Linked DNA regions of Homo sapiens: region 1 is linked to region 2. Evidence: fine-mapped QTL for protein levels in blood plasma. Region 2 holds a variant in brackets. A gene starts in the other region. All regions are shown on their forward strands.

Region 1 (9,486 bases), not on the chromosome of region 2:
TCTTACATGCCAGGCACTGTGCTAAGCTTTTCACATGCATTATTTAATTTAACCCTTACAAAAACTCTGTTAAGTCACACATCAGTTAGGGCCTTTTGGGGAAAAACAACAGAACAAGTAGAACATGAGATTTACTGAGTACCAAGTAGCCTATTCCAGGAATTAGTAGTTTTGTTTCCTGCCCTGCTCAGGTTAGGCCCTGAGCAACTCCTCCTTTCAAGGTTGGGAGGCAAGAACTTAGAGATGGTGAAATGGCTGTCGCTGCCCTGCAAGTCACCTGTGGCCAACCATGCTCTTTGTGTGACCTTGGTCGAAACACCTGGGACTCACAAAGCCTGTGGTAGAACAATTTCCTTGGCCTGCCAGACATTTGGCCTGCTGCATGGACAACTGAGGTGGCAAGGGAAGCATCCAGAATGCTTCCCACTGAGCGACAGGCAGCTTTCAGCCACCTACCTCTGTGTGTCATCGAGGGTGCGCTGGCCAGGTCATCCATCAACCCAACACAGTTGGTAGAATGATTACAGCGAATGTTGACTACATGCACTTTGACATCTATTATTATCTCATTTAACTATCACAATCACCCCAAGATGTTAGTACAATTATTGCCCCCATTTTCCAGATGAGGACAGTGAGGTCCAGAGAGTAAGTTGTTCAAGGGCATACTTATAGACCTAGGATATTTTTATTCTTTTTTTTTTTTTTTCTGAGATGAGATCTTGCTCTGTTGCCCAGGCTGGAGGGCAGTGGTGTGATCTTGGCTCATTGCAATCTCCGCCTCCTGGGTTCAAGTGATTTTCTTGCCTCAGCCTCCTGAGTAGCTGGGATTACAGGCATGTGCCACCATTCCCGGCTAATTTTTGTATTTTTGGTAGAGACAGGGTTTCGCTATATTGTCCAGGCTGGTTTCAAACTTCTGACTTCAGGTGATCCACCTGCCTCAGCCTCCCAAAGTGCTGGGATTACAGGTGTGAGCCACCACACCCGGCGTAGACCTAGGATTTTAGTGCCCTTAGTCTGATTCCAGACCCAAAGGCTTAACCAGATGGCTGAGGATGACACTCAGGTGGAACTTTTTTTTCTTACTTTTTTTTTTTTTTAAGACAGGGTCTCGCTGTGTTGCCCAAGCTGGAGTGCGGTGGTGCAATCAGCTCACTGCAGCCTCAATCTCCTGGGCTCAAGTGATTCTCCCACCTCAGCCTCCTGGGTAGCTGGGGTTGTCTCACGTGTCCATGTGAAGAGACCACCAAACGGGCTTCGTGTGAGCAACAAGGCTGTTTATTTCACCTGGGTGCAGGCGGGCTGAGTCCGAAAAGAGAGTCAGCAAAGGGTGGTGGATTATCATTAGTTCCTACAGGTTTTGGGATAGGGGGTGAAAAGCCATGTTTTGCGGGCAGGGGTGGATCTCACAAAGTACATTCTCAAGGGTGGGGAGAATTACAAAGAACCTTCTTAAGGGTCGGGGAGATTACAAAGTACCTTCTTAAGGGTGGGGGAGATTACAAAGTACATTGATCAGTTAGGGTGGGACAGAAACAAATCACAATGGTGGAATGTCATCAGTTAAGGCTATTTTCACTTCTTTTGTGGATCTTCAGTTGCTTCAAGCCATCTGGATGTATACATGCAGGTCACAGGGGATATGATGGCTTAGCTTGGGCTCAGAGGCCTGACAGGATCACAGGAACTTTTCTTGACAATCCAGTGCAATGGAAAAACAGTATTTTATTCTTGTTCTTCCCACAACTTTCTCAGGAGGGCGGATCCTGTAGCAAGTTTCTTCGAGTGTGGTGAGCGAAGCAAATTGGAGGAGCTCAGACGGAGATAATTTGTCTGTGTAGACAAGGAAGGAAATTTGGAGAGGTGGGACTGGGAGATTTTGTTGGGAAGAGAGAAGCCGTGACCCTGGGTGCTGTGCAGGAAAAGGGACGATGAAGACCTGATACCTTCATTCCCCTGAGAGCAAAACTGGAAAATGTTGAGGAATGTGGCAAAGAAGGTTTGCGAAGTTGAGTATAGAGAGTCATGTGATGCAAAACCCACTTGTTTGAAGGAGGTGGGCCAGTGAGCCTGCCGATCCCTGGGGGAAGATTGGTTCCATCAGAGGGAACAGCCAGTGCCATGGCCTTCAGGTGGTGGTGTGCCTGGCAGGTTTGAGGAATGGCAAGGAGGCCAGGGTGGCTGCTGTCCCAGAAAATGAGGTAAGCTCAGAGAGGTAAGGGCTGGGGTTGGGATGACAGGTCATGCAGGTCCTTGTAGGTTGTAGAAAGGACTGGCTTTTACTATCAGTAACGTGGGAGCCTTTGCAAGGTTTTGAGCAGAGGAGTGGCATGATATGTCTTGTGTTTTGAAACAATCCCTCTGACTGCTGTACTGAAAATTGACTTCGGCTGGGCACGGTGGCTCACGCATGTAATGCCAGCACTTTGGGAGGCTGAGGTGGGAGGATGGCTTGAGGCTAGGAGTTTGAGACCAGCCTAGGCAACTTAGTGAGACCCCGTCTCTACAAAAAGATTGAAAAATTACCTGGACATGGGGGCGCATGCCTGTAGTACCAGCTATTTAGGAGGCTGAGGTGGGAGGATCATTTGAACCCAGGAGTTGGAAAAAAGAAAAAAGGCAGTCAAAGGACTGAGCTCTGAGATCCTTCTGAAGAGGTTGGGAGAAGAGGAGAATCAGCAAGAGAAACTGAGAAGGAGGGTCATGGGCGGTAGGCGGGAAGCAGGAGAGTGTGGGGTCAGAGGACAGATGTAGAAATCAGTTCCAGGAAGCGAGGGCCGAGTGTCAGAAGCTGCTGCTGAGTCACTCAAGATGAAGACAGAACTCATCACTGGAGTCACTCAGGCAGCCTTGGTGACCTTGATAAAAATAGTTTAGGTGGAGTAGGTGCCGGGTTGGAGCACAGGCTTGGTTGGAATGGGGTTAAGGGAGGATGTGAGCAGTAGAACAGGGTGCAGCCAACACAGACAACTACTTTGGAGAAGTTTTGCAAAAGGGAAGTAAAAAATGGGCAGTGGTTGATGAGGGGAGTGGAATCAAAGAAAGTCTTGTTTGCTTTTTCAGTAGGAGAAATGTATTGTTTCTGATGGGAACACCAGATTTCTACATACGTATTTTGTATTCTTTCCGAGGGTCTTATATACTTATTCCAGAGCCAACACTGTACTTTTACCTACTGTGGCTTTAGAATATTGCTTTGATAGGGTACTTGTTATGGAATAACATGACATTGTAAGGTATGTCCCATTGCTTTATAGGCTATTGCTGTGTGTTTTCTAGTCCAGTCAATTTTTGAATCAGCACGTCAAATTCTAGAAAAATTCTGCTGGGTGAGATTATAATGAATTTGAGTAATTAAATGGAGAACCGACATCTGTACTGACATCTGTAGTCTTGTAGTCTTGTCATCCATGAAGATGACATATCTCTCTATTCTTTTTTTTTTTTTTTTTTTTTTTTTTTTTGAGATGGAGTGTTGCTCTGTTGCCCAGGCTGGAGTGTGGTGGCACAATCTCAGTTCACTGAAACCTCTGCCTCCCGGGTACAAGCAATTCTCATGCCTCAGCCTCCCGAGCAGCTGGGATTACAGGCATGCACCATGATGCCCAGCTAATTTTTGTATTTTTTGTAGAGATGGGATTTCACCATGTTGGCCAGGCTGGTCTCAAACTCCTGGCCTCAAGTGATCCACCCACTTCAGCCTCCCAAAGTGCTAGGATTACAGGCGTGAGCCACTGCACCAGGTCAATAATCTTTTTTTTTTTTTTTTTTTTTTTTTTTTTTGAGGATGAAGTCTTGCTCTGTTGCCCAGGCTGGAGTGCAGTGGCATGATCTCGGCTCACTGCAACCTCCACCTCCCGGGTTCCTAGCATTCTCCTGTCTCAGCCACCCGAGTAGCTGGGACTACAGGCGCATGCCACCATGTCTGGCTAATTTTTGTATTTTTAGCAGAGACGGGTTTTGCCATGTTGGCCAGGCTGGTCTCGAACTCCTGATCTCAGGTGATCCACCCACATCAGCCTCCCAAAGTGCTGGGATTACAAACGTGAGCCATCATGCCCGGCCAGTAATTTGTTTAATTACATATCTTTTATAAGCTCTTTCTTTCTTCCTTCTTTTTTTTTTTGAGACAAGGTCTCACTCTGTTGCCCAGGCTGGAGTGCAGTAGTGTGATCATGGCTCACTGCAGCCTCCAACACTTGGGCTCAAAATGTCCAAGGGACATTTTGCGAAGTGCGTTTTCAGGGAGATAGTTTGATTTCCCACACCTGTTTGATACATATTAATGTTTAATTAATTAATTATTTATTTAATTAAAAAAATTTAAGAGACGGGGTCTTATTATGTTGCCCAGGCTAGAGTACAGTGTATGGTGGCATGATCATAGCTCACTGCAACCTCGACCCCTTGGGTGCAAGTGATCCTCCTGCCTCAGCTTCCTGAGTAGCTGGGACTACATGTGCATACCACCACACTAGATAATTAAAAAAAAATTTTTTTTAAGAGACAGAATCTTCCTATGTTGCCCAGGTTGGTCTTGAACTCCTGGGCTCAAGCGATCCTCCCACTCTGGACTCCCAAAGTGCTGGTATTACAGGCAGTGAGCCATTGTGCCTGGCATTAGCTCCTTCTTTTCCTCACTTTCCCACCAGTGTTTCCGGAATCACCTTCCAGATAAATTACTTACACTTGAAGCCTTGTCTCAGAGTCCACTTATAGGGGAAATCAAGCTAAGATTTTATCAAGAGTGGGGATGGGGGACAGGTAGGAGGGAACAGCCAACAGCTTATAGATATGTCCCCACCCACGGTCACCAGGTCAGGTGCACACTTGGTGGTGGCTCATTGAGAAAGCCTCTGCAGGTTGGACAGCCAGTCTGAGATCTTGCCTATGTTTTTACAGAGAGTGGACCCTTGGCCACTGTTCAGGGCAAGGAGGGGCCTCCACGTCTGAGTTCGAGCAGCCCCCATAGTGGCCAGAGTGTGAAAACTTTTCCCAAAGCAAACCCAGCTGATCTACTAAACTCCTCCCCGGGCACCCTGGTTGGTATCTTCTCATCTTGGGCTCATGACTTCGTTCGTCCTTTCCTCAGCTTCTTTACCTGCTAACAAATACAGGTAACCTGTTGTTTTAAATTATCTATTGGTATTTTTTATGATTATGAGTCTTTTTTTTGTATAAAGGTCTTTTTTTTTTTTCTCTTTGAGACATGGTCTTGCTCTGTTGCCCAGGCTGGAGTGCAGTGTTGAGGTCATAGCTCACTGTAGCCTCAAACTCCTGGGCTCAAGTGATCCTCTTGCCTTGGCCTCCCACAGCATTGGGATCACAGGCATGAGCCACTGCACCCAGCCTATATAAATATTTTAAGTACAAATGATATAGAAAAGAATATTAAAGTCATCTTGTAGCAGATTGAATACAACCACAAATTCCTCCCATTGGGAGGTGGGATCTGTGTCCCCTTTGCTTGAATGTGGATGAGCTCTGTGACTGCCTGATCAATGGAATGTGGTGCAGATGACTTGGCGCCAGTTTCCAGATCAAGACCTTAGTAGCCTGGAAATTTCTGCTTCCTGTCTGTTGGAACACTTGCTCTTGAAGTCCAGCCACCATGCTGCGAGAAGCCCAAGCCACATGGAGAGGGCACGTGGGGGTGCCCAGGTGACAGCCCCAACTGAGCTCCTAGCCCACGGCCAACTGCCAGCTGTGGGAGTGACCCATTTTGGGAGCCCAGCCCAACTGAGCTTTGGATTACTCTAGCCCTGGTTGTGATCCGACTGCAATCATGTGAGAGACCCCGCTGAGAACTGCTGAGGCCAGGAGATTCACAGATACGCGAGAGATTATAATATGCTGCTGTTTTTAACTATGAAGTTTTGGAGTAGCTCGCTCTGCAGCAATAGATACTGGAACATACCTGTAATCCTCCTATCTTGGAGATAACGACTATTAACATTTGGTTTTCCTGCATATATATATATATATATATATATATATATATATATATATATATATGATTTATTTTTGTATGTATGTACTTATTTATTTAATTTTAATTTTTTATTTTTTGAAACTGAGTCAAGCTCTATTGCCCAGGCTGGAGTGCAATGGTGCAATCTCAGCTCACTGCAACCTCCACCTCCCAGGTTCAAGTGATTCTCCTGCCTCAGCCTCCCAAGTAACTAGGATTACAGGTGCCTGCCACCACGCCTGGCTAATTGTTGTATTTTTAGTAGAGATGGGGTTTCACCATGTTGGCCAGGCTGGTCTTGAACTCCTAATCTCAGGTGATCCTCCCACCTCAGCCTCCCGAAGTGCTGGGATTACAGGCGTGCCTGTATATATTACATGCCCTGCCTATATATATTTTAGAGACAGGGTCTGGCTCTGTTTTCCAGGCTGGAGTGCAGTGGTGCAATCATATCTCACTGCAGCCTCAACCTCCTTGGCTCAAGCGATCCTCCCACCTCAGCCTGTTGAGTAGCTGGGACCACAGGTGTGCATCACTATGCCCAGCTAATTTTTAAACATTTTTTTGTAGAGTCAGGGTCTTGCTGTGTTGCCCAGGCTGGTCTTGAGTTCCTGAGCTCAAATGATCCCTCTGCCTTGGCCTCCCAATGTGCTGAGATTACAAGCAGGAGTCACCACACCTGGCTATATATAAAAATTATAAACAGATAATTTTTAACCAAATGTACATAATTTTAATTGCTTTTTTTTTTTTCAGCCAGCAAGCATTTTTTTCCATCTAGTTATCGGGAAAGTAGAACTAGAGGCAAAAGAAAATGTGTTGAATGGTGAAACCCTGTCTCTACTGAAAATACAAAAAATTAGCCAGGCGTGGTGGCAAGCACCTGTATTCTCAGCTACTCGGGAGGCTGAGGCAGGAGAATCACTTGAACTCGGGAGGCAGAGGTTGCAGTGAGCTGAGATCACGCCACTGCACTCCAGCCTGGGCGACAGAGGGAGACTCCGTTTCACAAAAAAAAAAAAAAAAAAAAAAAGAAAATGTGTTGAGAAAGAGTGAAAAAAATCATTGGCTTGAGAATCACATTGGCGGTCACATAAAGGTGAGGTTTGTGTTCCATGTATGTGTGGAAGGATACCTATTTTCCTGTGCCTTTGAAAACAGAATTAAAAGTGACAGACACAGGGGAGGGTAAGGATATATCACAGAGTGAAGTATCATTGAACCATTCCTCTGTTGAATATTCAGGTTTTTTTAGCTTTTCATATTAACAATAATGCTGCAATGAACAAGCTTGCAAATATATATATATATATATATTTTTTTTTTTTTAGAGATAAGAGTCTTGCTCTGTCGCCTAGGCTGGAGTGCAGTGGCACAATCTCTGCTCACTGCAACCTCCGCCTCCAGGGTTCAAGTGATTCTGCTGCCTCAGCCTCCCAGGTGGGATTACAGGTGCCTGCCACCACGCCTGGCTAATTTTTTTGTCTTTTTAGTAAAGATGAGGTTTCACCATGTTGGGCAGGCTGGTTTCAATTGCTGACCTCAAGTGAGCCACCCCGCCTCAGCCTCCCAAAATGCTAGGATTACAGGCATGAGCCACCGCACCCAGCCAAGTTTGTACATATATTTTTGACTACACTTCTTAACTATTCTTAGGATAAATTACTAGAAGTGAAAATTCTTGGGTGAAGAGCTTGAGGCCTTTACACACACACACACACACACACACAAAAATAGGCTGGATGCAGTGGCTCACACCTGTAATCTCAGCAGTTTGGGAGGCTGAGGAAGGAGGATCACTTGAGTCCAGGAGGTTGAGAATAGCCTGAACAACATAGCAAGATCTTGTCTCTACAAAAAATTTAAAAAAAATTAGCTGGCCATGGCAGCATGTGCCTGTAGTACCAGCTACTCGGAAGGCTGAGGTAGGAGGATCGCTTGAGCCCAGGAGGTTGATTGAAGCTGCAGTGAGCTGTGATTACACCACTGCACTCCAGCCTGGGCAACAGAGCTAGACTCTGTCTCTAAAAAAAGCACAAAATAATATTTAAAAAGCACCAGGTATGCCTGTACTTGAGTTGTCTTTGTTGATGGCTACAAATGAGGACAGCTCTGGCTGAAGGGCGCTTCCATTTCCATGGGCTGAAGGAGGGACATTTTGCAAAGTGTGTTTTCAGGAAGACACAGAGTTTTACCTCCTACACTTGTTTGATCTGTATTAATGTTTGCTTATTTATTTATTTAATTTTTTTTTTGAGACAGAGTCTCACTCTGTCACCTGGGCTGGAGTGCAGTGGCATTATTGAGGCTCATTGCAGTCTCAGACTCCTGAGCTCAAACAATCCTCCTGCCTCAGCCTCTGGAGTAGCTAGGACTACAGGCATGTGCCACCATGCCTGGCTAATTTTTTAAATGTATTTTTTTGTAGAGTCGGGGTCTCCCTATGTTGCCCAGGCTGGAGTGCAGTGGTGTGATCCTAGCTCACTGCAGCCTGGACCTCGGGCTCAAGTAATTCTCACACCTCAGCCTGTCCAGTAGCAGGGGCTACAGGCGCGCACCACCATGCCCAGCTAATTAAAAATATTTTTTTGTAGAGACAGGGTCTCTCTATGTTGCCCAGGCTGGTTTCAAACTCCCAGGCTCAAGCAATCCTCCTGCCTTGGCCTCCCAAAGTGCTGGCATTACAGGCGTGAGCCACTGCGCCTGGCCCGTATTAATGTTTAGAACACGAATTCCAGGAGGCAGGCTAAGTCTGTTCAGCTTGTTCATATGCTTGGGCCAACCCAAGAAACAAGTGGGTGACAAATGGCACCTTTTGGATAGTGGTATTGACTTTGAAAGTTTGGGTCAGGAAGCTGGGGAGGAAGGGTGGGCAGGCTGTGGGCAGTCCTGGGCGGAAGACCAGGCAGGGCTATGTGCTCACTGAGCCTCCGCCCTCTTCCTTTGAATCTCTGATAGACTTCTGCCTCCTACTTCTCCTTTTCTGCCCTTCTTTGCTTTGGTGGCTTCCTTGTGGTTCCTCAGTGGTGCCTGCAACCCCTGGTTCACCTCCTTCCAGGTTCTGGCTCCTTCCAGCCATGGCTCTCAGAGTCCTTCTGTTAACAGGTGCATGGGGGTGGGGTGGGGGACTCTGGGTGGGGAGGAGGGTAACTTTTGGGTCTGTCATAAATAGAGGGCCCAGAATATGTAGGAGTCAGTCTGGGGAGAGGCAAAGGGGATTTGGGGAAGGAGAAAGGGTTCAAGAAGAAGCAGGGAGAACAGCTAGACCCAGACAGGCTGGCCAGGGAAGCCTGGATGAATGACCACATTCATGGACTGTGCAAGGCTGCTTGCCGGTCCCCTTGCTTCACACATGAGGAGACGGAGGCCCAGGGAGGAGAAGTGACATGGCTCAGGGTGCGCAGCAGGTGTGAGACCCCTTTCCTGAGTGCTTCCTCCTGGATCCCCTCTCACCATCTCCACTTTGCCTCCGGTTCTATTTTCCAAGGTCCCGGGTGCAAATGTTTGTTGAA
Region 2 (9,787 bases):
AGGTCAGGAGTTCAAGGCCAACATGGTGAAACCCTGTATCTACTGAAAATACAAAAAAAAAAAAAAAAAAAAAAAAATTAGCTGGGCATGGTGGTGGGCACCTGTAATCCTAGCTACTCGGGAGGCTGAGGCAGGAGAATCGCTTGAATCCGGGAGGCAGAGGTTGCGGTGAGCCGAGATCGCGCCATTGCATTCCAGCCTGGGCAACAAAAGCTAAACTCTGTCTCACAAAAAAAAAAAAGAAAAGAAAAAAGAAAGAAAAACAGAAAAGAAACACCAAACTCCATCCCAGCCCCATCCTGGAACTAAGACTTCATCCCCATGTCCTCACAACATGGCCCAGCTGGACTTATTCCCAAGCTTCCTCCTCCTTCTCCTCGTGTGTCCCCATTGGTGGGACAGTCCGTCCATCCACCCAGACACCCCGGCCCAGGTCCAGGCCTTGTCCAAGCACTTCCCGATCTTCCACCCCACCGCTCACCCAGCACCCGCGCCTGGCTCGTCTCAAAAAAATAACCTGCTTCTCCCCATCCCCACAGCTGCTCCCTCTTCCCCCTGGACCAGGTGACATCCCCCTCTTAGGGTTCCCCCTGCCTGGTTTGCCTTGTCCCTGGGACTGCCTCCTCCATGGCCTCCCCACTCTCATCCTGCCCCCATGACAGCCTTCCCTGGGGCTCTACCTCCTGTCTTGCCCCCCAAAACAGACCCTCCAGGGTCCTCACTCCCACCTGGCCACCACGGCAGACCCCCCCTTAGGATCCCCAACCCGACCTGCCCTCAAGACTAATCCCCCAGTGACCCCACCCTGGCTTGGCCTCAAATGCTGTCCCTATGTCCACTCAGCAGCCCCCAGCCACCTCTCCAATGCTCAGCGGCCAACTCTTTCCCTTCCTTTTTGATTTTTTTTCTTTTTTTGAGACAGAGTCTTGCTGTGTCATCCAGGCTGGAGTACAGTGGCATGATCTCAGCTCCCCATAACCTCTGCCTCCCCGGATTCAAGTGATTCTCCTGCCTCAGCCTCCCAAGTACCTGGGATTACAGGCACGCGCCACTACACCTGGCTAATTTTTTGTATTTGTAGTAGAGATGGGGTTTCACCAAGTTGACCAGGCTGGTCTTGAACTCCTGGTCTCAAGTGATCCACCCACGTCGGCTTCCCGAAGTGTTGGGATTACAGGCATGAGCCACCGCACCCGGACCCTCCCTCACTTCTTTACCATCTTGGTCCTCGGCCATTACCCCAGATCAAGGTGGAGGGGACATTTTGGGACCCAAAATGAACAGCCTCAGACCACCAGAGTCAGTCATTCACTCAACAGGCATGCACCAAGGGTCACTCGGTCCAGGGTGACAGACAAGGCAGCATGGTCCCAGCTGTTCTGGAGTGCAGGGTCCAGGGGACATTTCAGCCAGGCCCCTCCCTGACACAGTGGGAACGTCCAGCCCTAGTGGATGGCCCAGCCCAGCCCCCTCCTGGTTGGGAGGTGGGTTGTAGGGGCACAGGGGGGTGTCTTCTGGAGTGAGAGACATGGGAGGTAGCCCACCCAGGAGTGGGGATTTGGAGTTCCCCAGTTGAGAGTGGGGAGGGTGTTAAGGATCAGGGGACACATTTTGGGAAGGATGAGGAGGGTGGGCAAAGTGCCAAGGGGTCTTAGTATATAGAAGTCTAGGTGGCATAGTGGCTAGGGCTGCAGATGCCTGACCCACACTACCTGTGTTCAAATTCCTGGTTCTTCCATTGAAGTGCTGTGTGACCTTTGGCAAGTCACCTAACCTCTCTGTGCTTCACATAAGGCAGCATTGATCACCAAAGCATCTAATTCCTAGGGTGGTGGTGAAAATTAGATGTGTTAATATGCACACAAGTCACTAAGAACTGTGTCCGGCTGGGCGTGGTGGCTCATACCTGTCATCCCAACACTTTGGGAGGCTGAGGCGAGTAGATCACCTGAGGTCAGGAGTTTGAGACCAGCCTGGCCAACACAGTGAAACCCCGTCTCTACCGAAAAGTGCAAAAATTAGCCAGAAGTGGTTCCAGGTGCCTGTAATCCCAGCTACTCGGGAGGCTGAGGCAGGAGAATTGCTTGAACCTGGGAGGCGGAAGTTGCAGTGAGCTGAGATTGCGCCATTGCACTCCAGCCTGGGCGATCCCAAAAAACAAACAAACAAACAAATTCCTGTGCCCAGCAACCATTGCTACTAAATTAAACTATACAACAAAATTGTCCATATTTTTTTTTAGAGACAGGGTCTCGCTCTGTCTCCCAGGCTGGAGTGCAGTGGTGCGATCTCGGCTCACTGCAGCCTCAACCTCCTGAGGTTCAAGAGATCCTCCTACTTTCTCCTCCTGAGTAGCTGGGACCACAGGCACGCACCACCACGCCTGGTTAATTTTTTAAATTTTTGGTAGCGATGGGGTCTCACTATGTTGCCCAGGCTGGTCTCAAACTCCTGGGCTCAAGTGATCCTCCTGCCTCAGCCTCCCAAAGTGCTGGGATTACAGGCATGAGTCACTGTGCCCAGCTGGAATTTGGTGTTTCTGAGTTCTACAAGCCCAGGTGCCCCAGCCCAACCCCACCGGCCCCATCATGTCCTTCCCAGGGGTGAAAGCCCCCTGCCTGCTGGGTTCCTGCCAAGACTCAGCTCAAACACTAGGATGCTTTGGGGCCCCAAGGACCCAGTCACGGGACTGCCCCACCCGCTTCCCCTCTGCGGTATTAATACGCCTCTTGCTCACTTCGGGGGAAAAACAGAAAATTGTGCGGATGTGGGCCCCAGATCTGTGGGTGTCGGTTCTTCTTTCAGATTTGGGATCCTCTGCATGTTGGGGGAGGCCGCGTCTCGCTCCTCGTTTGACCTAGGTCAGAATTCAACAGGAAGGAGTTTAGGGTGTCCAGCAACAACAACCCTCAACCATCTCCAGCTGAGCTCTCATCCCAGCCCCGGCCCTGACCGTAACCCCAGCTCAACTACAACTTGATCCCCTCACCCCACGATGCTCTGATCCCAGCCCTAACCTCTGCTCTGCACAGGACGGAGGCACGTCCGCGGCTCTAATCACAGAACCCCCACACCTGGGACAGGGCCTGGCGCTGTGTCCCAACGAGATGGAGCCTGGCGACCCTGACTCTAACCCCATCCCGACACAGCCCTGGGCTTTCCTACCTGTTTAACCTCTCCTGGGGTTACGAAGGGGAGAAGGAAAGGGTGCAGGGGTGGGGAGGAAGGGCAGTAGGTGTGTCAAATCCAGGGGGGCTTCCAGGAGGAGGTGTGTTCAAAGCTGGGTCTCTCCCACCCTGCACTGTTGACTTTGGGACTGATGATTCCTCGCTGGGATGCTGTCCTGTGCATTGTTGGATGTTTAGAAGCATCTCTGGCCACTAGTCGCCGAAAGAGTCACCGTGGTTGAGAAGCGCTGCTTTGAAAACATGATTCCTAGATCACGCTTTATTTTGTTTTCATTGTGGCAAAATATACATAACATAAAATTTACCATCGTAGCCATTTCTAAGTGCACCATTCAGGAGCATGAAACACATTCACACTGTTGTGCAACCATTACCACCATCCGTCTCCGGAACTTTCTCATCTTCCCAAACTGAAACCGTGTCCCCATGAAACACTCACTCCCTATTTACCCAACTCCAGCCCCCATGAGAGCTCCCCTTAGGGTCCTCACCCCCACCAGACCTTCATGACAGCCTCCTTTAGGGTCTCCCTGAAACCCCTCCTCTGTGTCTTCCCTGAACGGCAACCACCTGCCCATATCTTCTCTCTGCCTACAACCATCCATGGCTCCCTTCTGCCCTGGGCCCAAAGCTCCAGCTTCCCATGTCCTGGAGTTCAAGGGTCCTGCCTGCTCAGGCCTGGCAGCTGGTCTCTCCAGCCACGCCCATACCTCTTCCTCCAAGACTCCACAGAGTGCCTTAACTTCACACAGTTCTGAAACACCAGGCTGTCTCCAAGCCTTCGCACGGGCAGCTGCTGCCTAAAGTGCTGAGCCAACCCACAGCACCAATTTGTATGGAAGCCTCCCTGCCACCCATAGTCCTAAGGCCCCCTCTTTTCCCAGCCTTGAGCTCCTGCACTGGATGGGCCCCTCCTGGGACTGGGGGCTCCCCAGGGGCAGGACCTATGCCCCACTCCTAGAAGGGCCAGGAGGGCGGCCCTGAATCACAGTCACATGCACCCCTTTCCCTCCGCTTCC[G/C]GACCCCCACTCAGGCAGAGAGCCAGTCAACAGGAAGAGGAAAGGGGTGTGTGGGATGAGAAGAGCCTGGATGTGCACTTTTGTCTTCCGGGAACCTCGGGATCTGGAGCCCAAACCTAGGCTGTTTTTTTGGTGTGGATTGTGGCAGTGGGGTGGGGAGAGCTTGGGGGCACTGGTATGTGTGGCTGGGAGTCCTCAGGCTAAGAGGGGACGCAGAGATGGGGTTGTCCACACCCTTCCCTCCAGAGGGCCCCCCAGAACTCCAGGAGGGGGGTCCTGGACCACTCATTGCCTCCCTGCCCCCTCCCCTCAAGGCCCCAGGATACTTCTAGGGACCAGAGAGCTGAGCCAGCAGGTCCTGAGGCTTCTGAGAGCAGCCCAGGCCCAGCCTGGGAGATTTGGGGATTTCTTTCCAAGAACGCCCTCAGAGACTCTGAAATCCTGGACTCCGGGCTCCACCCTCACAGACCCGGGGCTTCAACTTCCTGGAGACCCAGGAAGCCAGGCCCCCAGACCCCACCCTCAGGGACTCAGGCTCAGTTCCCTAAGGATCAGGAAGACAGGCCCCCAAACCCCATCTTCAGGAACTCAAATTCCCAGCCCTTCAGGGACCCAGGAGGTTGGGACTCCAGCCTCTCAATCCCTGAGAGACCAAAGCCTCCAGCCCCATAGGGACCCAGGAAGCCAGGCCCCAAGACCCCATCCTCAGGGACCCAGGCTTAGCCTCTTTTTTTTTTTTTTGAGATGGAGTCTCACTCTGTCGCCCAGGCTGGAGTGCAGTGGCGCGATCTCCGCTCACTGCAACCTCCACCTCCCAGGTTCAGGCGACTCTCCTGCCTTAGCCTCCCGAGTAGCTGGGATTACAGTCACCCACGACCACACCGAGCTAATTTTTGTATTTTTAGTAGAGATGGGGTTTCACCAAGTTGGCCAGGCTGGTCTTGAACTCCTGACCTCAGGTGATCCGCCCACCTCGACCTCCCAAAGTGCTGGGATTACAGGCGTGAGTGAGGCTTAATATCTTAAAGACCCAGGAATCCAGGCCTCCAGACCTCATCCTCAGGGACCCAGGCCCCCAGACCCCCTAGGGACTTTGGTGTGGGATCGTGTGTTTTTCTCCTCCGTCCCTGCTGATCTCATGCCGGTTTCTGGGTCTGCCAGGACAGTGGCGGGTGCTGCTGCTTTGCTGGACACACCTGGTCACTGCCACCACTGTGTAACCCCTGATGTGGGTAACTAAAGGCCATGGGTTCCCAGCCCAGCTGCACCCCTTTACCTGCTGTGTGACTTAATCCTCTCTGGGCCCCAGTTTCCTCATCTGTAAAATGGGGATAACCTCGTCTGTAAAATCTCTCACATAGGTTGCTGTGTGCGTAAAGCCTTCAGCCCAATGCCAGATATAGGGAGGCTCTAAAAATGGGAGCATTTTTAGTGCAATTTCCTGAAAAATATCTCTCACATAATTAAGCAGCTCCCAATCCGGCAGCCAGCAAGGCCCTGTGTGGCTGACACCTTCTCCTCTGTATTGCCCCCTCTGTATGCCCCTCCAGTGACAATGGCCTGCCTTTCTGTTTTATTTTTGGAGAGATGGTCTCACTCTGTTGCCCAGGCTGGAGTGCAGTGCAGTGGTATGATCACGGCTCACTGCATCCTTGACCTCCTGGGCTCAGGCGATCCTCCCACCTCAGCCTCCTGAGTAGCTTGGACCACAGGCACATGCCACCTGCCTAGCTAATTTTAAAATTATTTTGTAGGCCGGGTGTGGTGGTTCACGCCTGTAATCCCAGCACTTTTGGAGGCCGAGGTGGGCGGGTCACGAGGTCAGGAGATCGAGACCATCCCAGCCAACATGGTGAAACCCCATCTCCACTAAAAATACAAAAATTAGCTGGGCATGGTGACATATGCCTGTAATCCCAGCTACTCGGGAGGCTGAGGCAGGAGAATCACTTGAACCCAGGAGGCAGAGGTTGCAGTGAGCCGAGATCGTGCCACTGCACTCCAGCCTGGCAACAGAGCAAGATCTCCACCTCAAAAAAAAAAAAAATTGTTTTCTTGTAGAGACGAGGGTCTCGCTATGTTGCCCAGGCTGGTCCCCAGCTACCGGCCTTAAGCAATCCTCCTGCCTCGGCTTCCCAAAGCGTTGGGATTACAGGCATGAGCCCACATGTCCTGCTCTTCCTTCATCTTCACAGCCAGAAGCACAGCCTCTTCCAATCTCTCTCTGACTCTCATCCTCCTGCCTCCTCTTGTAAGGACTCTGTGATGACATTGGGCCACCTGGATAATCCAGAGTGATCTCCCATCTCAAGACCCTTAACGTAATTCCATCTGCAGAGCCCCATTTGCCATGTAAGGTAAACTGTTCACAGGTTCCCGGGATTAGAATGTGGACATCTTTGGGGAGGTGTTACTCAGCTGACCACTATACCCTAGGAGACAGATGTTGTTATTATTATTATTATTTGTTTTTGAGAGGAGTCTCGCTCTATTGCCCAGGCTGGAGTGCAGTGGCCTGATCTCGGCTCACTGCAGCCTCCGTGTCCCAGGTTCAAGCGATTCTCATGCCTCAGCCTTCACAGTAGCTGGGACTACAGGCATGCACCACCATGCCCGGCTAATTTTTGGTAGAGACGGGGTTTCCCTATGTTGGCCAGGCTGGTCTCGAACTCCTGGCCTCAAATAATCCACCCGCCTCAGCCTCCCAAAGTACTGGGGTTACAGGAGTGAGCCACCGTGCCCGGCCCAAACTCTGGGCTTTTTGTTGGCATCTGCTACATTCATCCTTTTGAGCTGTGTCTGACTCTGGGGACACGGGAAAGGTAAGAATCCTCATGGGGTTTGGGGGACAGGCCTGACGAGGAGACTCTGTCTGCCCCCGCTTCTTTGGAGAGCACCCTGGGGACTTCCCCACACTCCCCAGCCTTCCTAGGAAGAAGCCCTCGGGATCTGAGGGGGTTTCCTGGGATCAGGGGGAGAGGGGTGGGAGGCTGATAAGAACAGACTACTCTGTCTGAAAGACATGACTTTGGAAAGTGGGATCACCATGGAGCTGCTCTATCCAGGAAACCCTAGCTGGGCTCCAAGGTCACCAGCAATTTGCTGACCGAGCCCCAGAGAGAGTTGCCCTGTGGTCACTCAGGGGGCTAGTGGTGGGGACACCCCGTAAAAAGAATCAGGGAGTGGCTGGAAGGTGCCCCTCTCTGCCTCCATGCCCTGCTTTCCAGCACAAACCCCCATTGGTCTCTTCAGGGCAGAGCCTACTTTCTCTCCCTGTACCCCACTCCCCAGGCCGGAAATGCCGTGGAGGGGGAATTGCTTTTCCAGAATTGTTCATGTCAGACCTCACCACGTGGGCACACCCTCTATCTGTCCTCACCACCTCTTCCTCTCTCTGCCAGACTGTGGGCCCCAGGAGGGCAGCAACCATGACCTGAACCCCAACATTTCACCATGACAATTTTCTTTTCCTTCCTTCCTTCCTTTCTATCTCTCTTTCCCTCCCTCCCTCCTTCCCTCCCTGCCTCCTTTCTTTCTTCCTTTCTTTCCTTTTTCTTTCTTTTCTTTTCTTTTTTCTTTCTTCCTTTCCTTTCCTTACCTTACCTTATGTTACCTTTCCTTTCTTTTCTTTTCTTTTCTTTCGTCAGTCTCGCTGTGTCGCCCAGGCTGGAGTGCAATGGCATGATCTCGGCTCACTGCAACCTCTGCTTCTCAGGTTTAAGTAATTCTCCTGCCTCAGCCTCCTGAGTAGCTGGGATTACAGGCATGCACCACCACGCCCAGCTAATTTTTGTATTTTTTCGTAGAGATGCAGTTTTGCCATGTTGGCCAGGCTGGTCTCGAACTCCTGACTTCAGGTGGTCCACCTGTCTTGGCCTCCCAAAGTGCTGGGATTACAGGCGTGAGCCACCGCACCCAGCCAAATTTTTCTTTTTTCTTTTTTTTCTAATTAAAATTTTTTTTTTTTGGCCAGGAATGGTGGCTCACACCTGTAATCTCAGTGCTTTGGGAGGCCAAGGCAGGAGGATGACTTGAGGCCGGGTGTTCAAGACCAGCCTAGGCAACATAGCAAGACACCCATCTCTACAAAAAACAAAAACAAAAACAAAATAGCTAAGCATGGTGGTGTGTGCCTGTAGTTCCAGCTACTCGGAAGGCTGAGGTAGGAGGATCACTTGAGCCCAGGAGGTCAAGGCTGCAGTGAGTTACAATGGCACCACTGCATTCCAGCCTCGATGACAGAGTGAAACTCTATCTCAGAAAAAGTTTTTTAAAAAATATTTTTATTTTTAGGACTAAGTTTCTGTCTGGTCGGACAGGACAGATGGGGTACACATAAGAAGGCCCTTTCGTATTTTTAGTAGAGACGGGGTTTCACCGTTTTAGCCGGGATGGTCTCGATCTCCTGACCTCGTGATCCGCCCGCCTCGGCCTCCCAAAGTGCCTTTTTTTTTTTTTTAAGATGGATTTTACTCTGTCACCCAGGCTGGAGTGCAATGGCACCATCATAGCCCACTGCAACCTCCCAACTCCTGGGCTCAAGGGATCCTCCCACCTCAGCCTCCTGAGTACCTTGGGACTATAGGCATGTGCCACCACATCCAGCTAATTAAAAAAACTTTTTTGTTTTTTTTTGAGATGGAGTCTCACTCTGTCACCAGGCTGGAGTGCAGTGGCACGATCTCGGCTCACTGCAACCTCTGCCTCCTGGGTTCAAGCAATTCTCCTGCCTCAGCCTCCCAAGTAGCTGGGACTACAGGCACACGCCACCAGACCTGGCTAATTTTTTGTATTTTTAGTAGAGACAGAGTTTCACCATGTTGGCCGGCATGGTCTCGATCTCCTGACCTTGTGATCTGCCCGCTTCGGCCTCCCAACGTGCTAGTATTACAGGTGTGCCCCGCACCTGGCCTTGTTGTTGTAGAGACAAATCTCGCTCTGTTGCCCAGGCTGGTCTCCAACTCTTAGCTTCAAGTGGTCCTCACACCTCAGGCCTCCCAAAATCGTGAGATTACAGGCGTGAGCAGCCACGGGCTAATTTTTGTATTTTTAATAGAGACCGGGTTTCACCGTGTTGGCCAGGCTGGTTTCAAACTCTTGACCTCAGGTGATCCACCCACCTTGGCCTCCCAAAGTGCTGGGATTACAGGCGTGAGCCACTGCACCTGGCTGTAACTTTTTTTTTTAGCCAAAATTATGTGAACATATTTGTTACCAGAGGCAGGTGGTGGTGGGCGGGGTGGGGCGGGGACTGGGGAGATGGTGGCCAAAGGATACAACATTTCAGTGACAGGAGGAACAAGTTCAAGAGATCTATTGTACATCATGGTGACTATAGTTAATAATCACATATTGTATACTCGAAAATTACTCAGAAAGTAGGTTTTTGTTTTTTTGAGACGGAGTCTCACTCTGTCACCGAGGCTGGCGTGAAGTGGTGCGATCTTGGCTCACTGCAACTTCCCCCTCCTGGGTTCAAGTGATTCTCCTGCCTCAGGCCTCCCAAGTAGCTGGGATTACAGGCACCAGCCACTACGCCCAGCTAATTTTTTTGTATTTTTAGTAGAGAAGGGGTTTCAC

Direction of the effects. Alleles are on the strand shown, and positions count from the first base shown. The strength of an association depends on the size of the effect and on how common the allele is.
For the plasma level of the protein whose gene starts at base 8,962 in region 1, allele G in region 2 goes with a lower level than allele C (weak association).

What was found. PIP is the chance, under the fine-mapping model, that this variant and not a neighbour inherited with it causes the effect. The UK Biobank Pharma Proteomics Project read protein levels with antibody pairs (Olink). The fine-mapping took linkage between variants from a reference panel, not from the people measured, so its PIPs are less certain.
Region 1: it holds the start of ITGAM, and the variant in region 2 is fine-mapped to the plasma level of the ITGAM protein (UK Biobank, PIP above 0.99).

The regions. Positions count from the first base shown.
Region 1 is chr16:31,251,014-31,260,499 of GRCh38, forward strand. It overlaps ITGAM (integrin subunit alpha M), which reads left to right and starts at 8,962. Exons shown (of 30, transcript NM_000632.4): 1 at 8,962-9,079. The coding sequence starts at 9,052. RefSeq lists an enhancer at 8,719-8,818.
Region 2 is chr19:7,703,080-7,712,866 of GRCh38, forward strand. LOC105372262 (a long non-coding RNA gene) reads right to left here and starts at 4,155. Exons shown (of 5, transcript XR_936296.2): 1 at 3,899-4,155; 2 at 3,166-3,415; 3 at 2,738-2,857; 4 at 1,713-1,823; 5 at 1-42. RefSeq lists an enhancer at 2,417-2,486. The variant G/C (reference allele first, on the strand shown) is at 4,208.